Homo sapiens: one gene and its partner. The protein of the gene in region 1 purifies or fractionates together with the protein of each later gene. This does not show direct contact. Each region holds a gene or a part of one and is shown on either strand. Other genes may lie near its edges.

What was found.
Region 2: the proteins of INHBB (region 1) and ACVR1B purify together in Homo sapiens (affinity purification with western blotting, with the first as the bait; one study listed by BioGRID). This does not show direct contact.

Annotation. Positions count from the first base shown.
Region 1 is NC_000002.12:120,344,542-120,348,968, forward strand, and holds the start of INHBB (inhibin beta B chain preproprotein), read left to right. Parts: upstream 1-1,594; 5' UTR 1,595-1,647; coding exon 1,648-2,095; intron 2,096-4,427. Other genes in the region: translation initiation factor IF-2-like, read left to right, coding at 346-1,373. UniProt on the Homo sapiens protein: Inhibins and activins inhibit and activate, respectively, the secretion of follitropin by the pituitary gland.
Region 2 is NC_000012.12:51,958,193-51,961,996, reverse strand, and holds part of ACVR1B (activin receptor type-1B isoform a precursor), read right to left. Parts: intron 2,738-3,804; exon of another isoform or gene 2,507-2,737; intron 1,942-2,506; exon of another isoform or gene 1,810-1,941; intron 1-1,809. UniProt on the Homo sapiens protein: Transmembrane serine/threonine kinase activin type-1 receptor forming an activin receptor complex with activin receptor type-2 (ACVR2A or ACVR2B).

The DNA of each region.
Region 1 (4,427 bases):
GGGCGGCAGCTGGGACAGAGGCAGGGCCTGCGCGGCGGCGGGGAGGCGGGAGTGGGCCGGGAGGAGCGCCTGGGTCCAGCGCCTGGAACCCGTCGGTGCCGCCGGCCGCCCAGCTGGGCAAGGGTCCGGGGCGCCCACGTGGTGGGAAAGTTTCGAGGTAGCAAAAGTAGCCCGGCATTGCGGGGGGTGGGAGGGGAGAGGAGGGGAGGGGAGAGGGCCGGCTCGCCCCTCCTTCTCGGGAAGGCAGAAAGGAAAAAAGCGGTGGGAAGCAGGGGTGAGCGCGGGGAGCGGGCAGCCCCAACCTGAACAGATTCCGCTTTCTCCTCCTCCCCCCACCCCGGGAAGCTCGAGCGGGGAGGTACGGACCGTCTCCTCTCGCACGGGCAGGACGACACCCTCCCTCCCCCCCTTTTTTCTGCCAACGTCTATCTCAACGCGCGCGCACATACGGAGATTGTGCGGCTTTTTTCCCCCTTGGGAGAAAAAACGGGGAGAGTAAAAGAAGAGAGACCAAAGAGAAGAACTCCTCCTCGGCGAGCTCCGCACTCCGTGCCGCGGCCCGGCGCGGGGACGCCGCCGCCGCCCGCCCGCTCTCTCCCGGCCCTGCGGCGGGTGCCAGTACGAGCGCGAGCGAGGGCACTGCACCCGGGGACGCTGCGAGACTTTTCGGCGCTCGAGCCGACCTCGCCGCCGCCGCGGCAGGCAGAAGAGACAGGAGCGAGAAGGGCCCTGCCTCCCCCTCGCCTTCCTCGCCCGGCGCCCCGCGCCCGGCCGGGCCGCGCAGGCAGGCGGAGGGAAGGAGGGAGGCTGCGAGGAGGCGGGCGGAGCAGAGGCCCCGGCGAAGCGCGCTGCGGCCGCCCGCCCGTGGATGCGGCGCCCAGGGATCCTGGAGACAACTTTGCCGTGTGACGCGCCGGGAGGACTGCAGGGCCCGCGGCCGAGGGCTCGGCGCCGCCTGTGAGCGGGCCCGCGCGGCCGGCTCTCCCGGGCACCAAGCTTGCTCCGCGCCACTGCCCGCCGGCCCGCGGCGAGGACGACCTGCCCGTCTCCGCCGCCGGCGGCCCTTCCTGGCGCGAGGCAGTGAGGGCGAGGCGCTCAGGTGCGAGCGCGGGGCCCCGCCGCAGCGCCCGCCGCAGCGCCGCGCCAAGCCGCGCCCGGCTCCGCTCCGGGGGGCTCCAGCGCCTTCGCTTCCGTCTCAGCCAAGTTGCGTGGACCCGCTCTTTCGCCACCTTCCCCAGCCGCCGGCCGAACCGCCGCTCCCACTGACGCTGCTTTCGCTTCACCCGAACCGGGGCTGCGGGGCCCCCGACGCGGAAAGGATGGGGAGAAGGCTGCAGATGCCGAGGCGCCCCGAGACGCCCGTGCGGCAGTGACCCGCGACCTCCGCCCCGCCCGGCGCGCCCCTCGGGCCCCCGGGGCCCTCGGCGCCCCTTCCCTGCCGCGCGGGAACCCCCGAGGCCCGGCCGGCCCCCTCCCCCTGCGAGCCGGCGGCAGCCCTCCCGGCGGGCGGGCGGGCGGAGGCCCGGGCGGGCGCGGGCGCGGGCGGGGGCGGGGCGGGGCGGCGCGCCCGGAGCCCGGAGCCCGGCCCTGCGCTCGGCTCGACTCGGCTCGCCTCGCGGCGGGCGCCCTCGTCGCCAGCGGCGCACCATGGACGGGCTGCCCGGTCGGGCGCTGGGGGCCGCCTGCCTTCTGCTGCTGGCGGCCGGCTGGCTGGGGCCTGAGGCCTGGGGCTCACCCACGCCCCCGCCGACGCCTGCCGCGCCGCCGCCACCCCCGCCACCCGGATCCCCGGGTGGCTCGCAGGACACCTGTACGTCGTGCGGCGGCTTCCGGCGGCCAGAGGAGCTCGGCCGAGTGGACGGCGACTTCCTGGAGGCGGTGAAGCGGCACATCTTGAGCCGCCTGCAGATGCGGGGCCGGCCCAACATCACGCACGCCGTGCCTAAGGCCGCCATGGTCACGGCCCTGCGCAAGCTGCACGCGGGCAAGGTGCGCGAGGACGGCCGCGTGGAGATCCCGCACCTCGACGGCCACGCCAGCCCGGGCGCCGACGGCCAGGAGCGCGTTTCCGAAATCATCAGCTTCGCCGAGACAGGTGGGTCCGGCCCTCCGGCTGTCTGCCGCGGTCCCCGCTCGCTCCCGCTCTCCCTCTCCTTGCTAGCTCCGGCTGCCACCGCCGCCACCGCAGCCCGCGCGCCCTGGGGCAGCCTGGACTCCCGGCAGAGCTCCTTCGGCCGTGGCCCTGCGCGCTCCGCCCGGGTTGCAGTCCTCTTCCCCCAGGCCGCAGACCCTTGCCTGCTGCCTCAACCCCCCGCCGCCGATCGCCTGGCCCTCCACCCCTGCTCTCCGGAATCGGGCCCCAGCGCCTCTGGGCGCGCGTCCCCCTCCCGGCAGATGCGCGCGGCCCTGGCTCTGCGGGCACTTGCTTGGTGATTGCTTAATGTTTTTGTTTCCCACGATCGGAGTGTAGGCTTAGCAGTGTGGATGGAGATGTGTGTGCTTGTTGATATACGTGGGCCGGAGGAGAGAGAGAGTGTGTGTGTATCTGTGTGTGTGTCTGTGTGTGTGTGTGCCTGCGTGAGAGGCCCCTGGGGCCGCTTCCATCACCGGCGGCGTGGGCTTGCCAGGATTGCTGAAGCCTCGCTGGGGAGAGCTAGGCAACCTCTCTTCCGATTGTGTGGGCACCGGAATCGGGCGGAAGGCAGGCTTCTCAACAGGTCCATCATTTACACAGAGAAAGCCGCGGTTCGGGGACAGCCCCGTGCCTCTCGGCTTGCCTGGCAGCTGCAGCAGACCCCTCGCCCGAGAGGCAGAGTCGTAGTTAACAAAGGGTATGGCTCCTTTCTGGAATCCGCCCCCCCCCCCGGCCCCAGATTGCAAATCTCTAACACTGTCTAAATATAAAAATCAGGGAGAGAAAAATCTTTCGGAACTTTAAAAGAAGGAGAAAAATGTGCCCGCGCCAAAATGCTGCAAGTGCTTTCGACTCCGCTGTCCTTTTCAGGACTTGAATGAGCCAGGCTGGCTTTTGTGCCTGGAGCTCGGCCCCATTTGTGCCGAGGGGACTGCGGAGAAGGTCGCAGAGGGGGAAGCCCCGGTGCAGTTAGGGCGGGGGCAAGCGGGGAGCCTCGGTGGGGGGAGCGGTTGTGCCCCTGGCTGCAAATGCCCCCCACCCCACCAGGCAGCAGGCAGCCCGGGGATGAAAAGGGATGAAAAGTTTTGCATGGCCGGGTGTGGAGAAAAGCAGAGACAATCGGGGCTGGTTTGTGCTTAGAAAGAAATGCATTGCCGTTTTAGCTGTCCACTAAAGTGAGTCAGGGAAAGCTCGCCATGCAATTAGAGGGCTCGGATTAAAAGGTGCTTTGGGGCCCAGAGTTAGAAATGTGATTCTGGAAGGTCGAGGAGGCCTTTTGGTCCCGGTGGCACAAAATGACAGCGGGGGCTGTTATATTTCTGGTCCGTTTCACGGAGCCAGCTCTTTGACTTATAAATAACAGATTCAGGTCACAGGCAGCTCGTCCAAGACCAGCTTTTAAGGCTGCAGTTTCCCCCATTTCAAAGTCAGATGTCAGTGTTATTAGAGGAGCCAGGCGAGGCCTGAGGTAGGGGCTTGGGAGGGGCATGGTGGGAGGTTTGATAAAACCAGCCCTGACCACAGAGTTTCATTATTTGTTCTTCCTGAAAAAAAAAAAAAAAAAAAAAAGGAAAGAAAAACGTAGATTGTCAGAGGCAAGGGTCACCGGAATGTAGGATGAGAGGGGAGTCATCTCTTGATTGGCACAGCCTCCTTCTTGTTGAGCTGAATTATTGAGAAAATTAACTAGCCAGCTCCCCTACTCCTTGGGGATTTTGAACGTGCCATTAACAGGGAGCCAGAGTCTTGTCAAAGGATTGGACCTCAAGTTTTAAGGCTGAATGTCCTGTCCCTTGAAACTATTCTATAAGGGCTAGGCTCTGCAGCCTGCAAAGCACACGTTCCTATGTCAGAAACCTGAGCAGAGCCTGCTTGTTTGCAGTGGAGGTTCCACTGGGGGTTGGATCACATCATACTTAGGTAAACACTGGAAAGAGGCGGTAGGTGGCTCAGCTTGATTTTGCAATGCGCTAAGTTAACCAAAAAAAAAAAAAAAAAAAAAAGCCCTACTAAAACCACCCACCCCAAAATCCTCCCTGCGATCCTGGTTTTGTTTTTCAGATTTCACAGATACCCATAACAACTTGTTAAGATCTTGGCCCCCTGACAAGTTCTTCTGTTGTGCTTTGAGGCCTGACAGCCTGTCTCCAGGGAGCCCTGGCCTGGGAGAGGTGAGGCAGGATTTTATAGGCGCGGACCCTCCAGCCCCAGCCTGGTCCGGGTTTCTCAATGAGAAACGATTTTCTCTGCCTCTCCCAGGTTACAGTCAGAGGCCCTGGCCCCAAGAATGGTA
Region 2 (3,804 bases), on another chromosome or scaffold:
AACTTAATTTATGGCTGACTGTAAATACCTGAACATCTAGCAAGGGCCCACCTGCTGCCCAAGAGAATGTCAAGGTAAGACTGAAATGAGTGGGCCTCATTATGAGGGAGTGTGTCCAATGTTCCTGGGACCTATGTGTGCAGACTCAGCTGTCATATTTAGACAATCAGGAAATTGCATTTCTCCTTTGATATCAGTTTATGATGAACATGTAAAACCACTGTTTTCTTTGTTGAGTCTGAATAAACATACTTCTGGCTCAATAGAGCAGGGAAGGATATTTATCCCTGGTATTTTCTTCCTGACCTATTTATTATAGTATGGACGAATGGAGAGGAGACCGTGTATGTCACAGTTTTGAGTGAGAAGAGGGATAGGAATGATTGTTTCAGGCAACTGGGACAATGGAAAAGGAAAAAAGAAATCAGCCAAACTGAGAATAAAACTAATGAGGTTGAGAGATCAAGTTCATTTGGCTGGAATAAAATGGGTAGGTGGTAGGATAAACAGAGATGAAAGAGGTGAGGTAGAAAGAGAGATTATGATGTTCCAAGTAACTCACAAATGTTTGCGGCATTTTTTGAGTAGGTTTAAAATACTATATATACAAGATTATAATAACATTAGAGCAAAACAGAATTGGAATTATTTACCTAGGATTTTACTGAGAGGATGGAAAAGAAATGAATTAATTCAATTAAACAAACTTATTAAGTACTTGAAACATGCAAGGCTCTGTGCAGGCCGAAGCCATATAACAAATAAGCCAGCTCCCCGCACCAATTCTTTGGGCATGGAGAGTGGGAGAAGACAACTATAAACAGTGCAACTCCAACTACCAATACAGGCTGAGGGGAAAAGCAGAGAGGATGGAATCACTGACCGGGAGAACACAAGAGGACGAAGGTCCACACTGGAGGACGCTGGGTTTGGCTAGGAAGAGAAGTGGGGAGAAGCATTCCAGAGAAAAGGAAAAGGGAAAGCAAAGGGCTGTGAAAAAATATTAGCTACACTGGGTTCAGAGTAAATTGACAGTTCGAACAATGCCAAGGTTCCAGCCAAAGGCAAGAAGAGTCAGGGAGACTAAGACCAGATGAAACTGATTGCAATGCTAAGCTAAGGGGTCTAGAGTTGATCCTAGAAGCCACACAACCTCTAGGTCAGACAAACAGGGTGCATTTCCAAAGTTAGATCTAGCCGTAGGATGGAAAACAAATGGGAGATTGAAGGCAGAGAGCCTGGTTAGAAGGTCACTTTTACAGTACTCACAGTTTATAGCACAGTACAATATTTAGAGCACATGTTTTGGACTTGGATAGACTTTGGACCCACTGCTTAACTTCTCTATGCCCTAGTTTTCTCATCTGTAAAATGGGAATAAGAGCCCCTAGCCCCTCAAAGAATAACTACATAGAGTAAATGATACAACACAGGTGCTTAGCATAATACTTTAGTATATAGTAAACATTCAGCAAATCAGATGCTTTTATTACAATTGTCACCTGAACTCCTCATAGTTTGTGGTAGTTCCAACAAGCAGAAAAAAAGTCCATTTGTGTGTAAACTTTTTTTTTTGAGACAGGATCTCACTCTGTCACCCAGGGTGGAGTGCAGTGGTGCAATCATGGTTTGCTGTAGCCTCAATCTCCTGGTCTCAAGCTATCCTCCCACCTCAGCCTCCCAAGTAGCTGGGACCACAGGCACACGCCACCAAGCCCTTGTAATTTTTAAAAATGTTTTGTAGAGACGAGGTCTCACTATATTGCCCAGGCTAGTCTCAAACTCCTGGACTGAAGCGATCCCCTGTACCTCATTCTCCAAAGTGTTGGGATTACAGGCATGAGCCACTGTGGCCGGTCTCTGTGTGTAAACTTCCAAAGGGCAAGGACAGACTCTTTCCTCAGGATCCCTCTCAGCATTCAGCTTGGTGCTAGGCACATCCTGGATATCAGAAATGAACACTGACTGATTACAATTCAATCTTATCTTCTACAGGTATAAAAGGTAATATGCAAACATATACCAAAGCAATATACAAGGATGTGGGGCAAGGTGAGTCCTCTACCACAAAAAAAAAAAAAACCCAGAAAATACTTCAATTCCCAGATTCCTCAACTCAAACATCCCAAGCACCTAAAAAACTTATTTCCAAAGCATCCACAATCCCCTCTCCCCTCCACTCACAAATATCTAGAAAAAAGTTATAGTCAGATGAAAGCCACATGTGGTCAAAGGATTTATTTTTATATGTGAGTGATGGGATGGCTGGGCACCAGGTCTCAAGTACCCTCATGCCTATCTTGGGGTATTTCTCATTATTCCCCTCTCTTGCTTTACCTATTTTCACCATCACCATTTGACTCACCCCCACCCAATGCATACATTTTTTAAACCACCACCTAGTTACTATTTCACAGTTCCTACAGGTCAGAAGTCCAGGCACAGCACCGACAGTGCCAGTTAGGGCTGCCTTCTCATCTAGGATTGGGTCCTCCTCCAAGCTTACTGGTTGTTGACAAGATCCACTGCCTTGCAGATGAAGGACTGAGGTCCCCATGTTCCTCCTAGCTGTCAGCTGGGAACCACTCTCAGCTCCTAGAGTTTGCCTGCAGTTCCTTGCCATGTGGCTGTTGGGATCGGCAGTTCACAACATGGACGTCTGCTTGCTTCCAAGCCAGCTGGAACATCTGATTTCCTCTTGTGCAATCAGCTGAGAAATCTCTCTGCTTTGAAAGGGCTAGTTCAATCAAGACAGACCCACCATGATAACCTCCTTTAGATGGCTAAAGGTCAACTGATTGAGACCTTAATTCTATCTACAAAGACTAGCATTTGACTGAATACCTGAAGCAGGTGTGTGTACACCAAACATGGGGAATCTTGGGGAAGTGAGGAGCAGAAGGTGGACTGTAGTAGGCACAACTGCTTTACATTTTATACTTTTGTTTATTGTCCACCTCACCTGGCAGAAGGTAAGCTTTCTGAGAGAAGGCAATTTTGTCTCCTTTCGTTTACTACTGTATCCCTAACACCTGCAACAATGCCTAGTATATGACAGGTGCTCAATAAATATGTGTCAAGGGACCCTTTGGATCAGGGGTCCCCAACCCCTGGGGCCACAGACCGGTACTGGTCCACGGCCTGTTAGGAACCAGGCCACACAGCAGGAGGTAAGTGGCAGGCGGGTACCTGAGCTCTGCCTCCTGTCACATCAGCGGCGGCATTAGATTCTCATAGGAGTGGGAAACCTACGGTGAACCGCGCATGCGAGGCATCTAGCTTGCATGCACCTTATGAGAATCTAACATGCTTGATGTGCCTGATGATCTTTCTTTTCTTTTTTTTTTTTTTTGAGGAGTCTCACTCTGTTCCCCAGGCTGGAGTGCAGTGGCGTGATCTCGGCTGACTGCAACCTCCGCCTCCCGGATTCAAGCTATTCTCCTGCCTCAGCCTCCTGAGTAGCTGAGATTACAGGCATGCGCTGCCACTACCATGCCCGGCTAATTTTTTATTTTCAGTAGAGATGGGGTTTCACCATGTTGGCCAGGCTGGTCTTGAACTCCCAACCTCAGGTGATCCACCCACCTCGGCCTGATGTGCTTGATGATCTGAGGTGGAACAGTTTCATCCCAAAATCATATCTCCCCTACTTCCCCTGTGGGAAAATTATCTTCCACGAAACCAGTCCCTGATGTCAAAAAGATTGGGGACCACTGCCCTAGATCACCATGGTAGGTACTCAACATGCATATGTTTAGTTTGCAGTCTGGAAATGGGACTTCTAACTACATGTATTAAAATTCT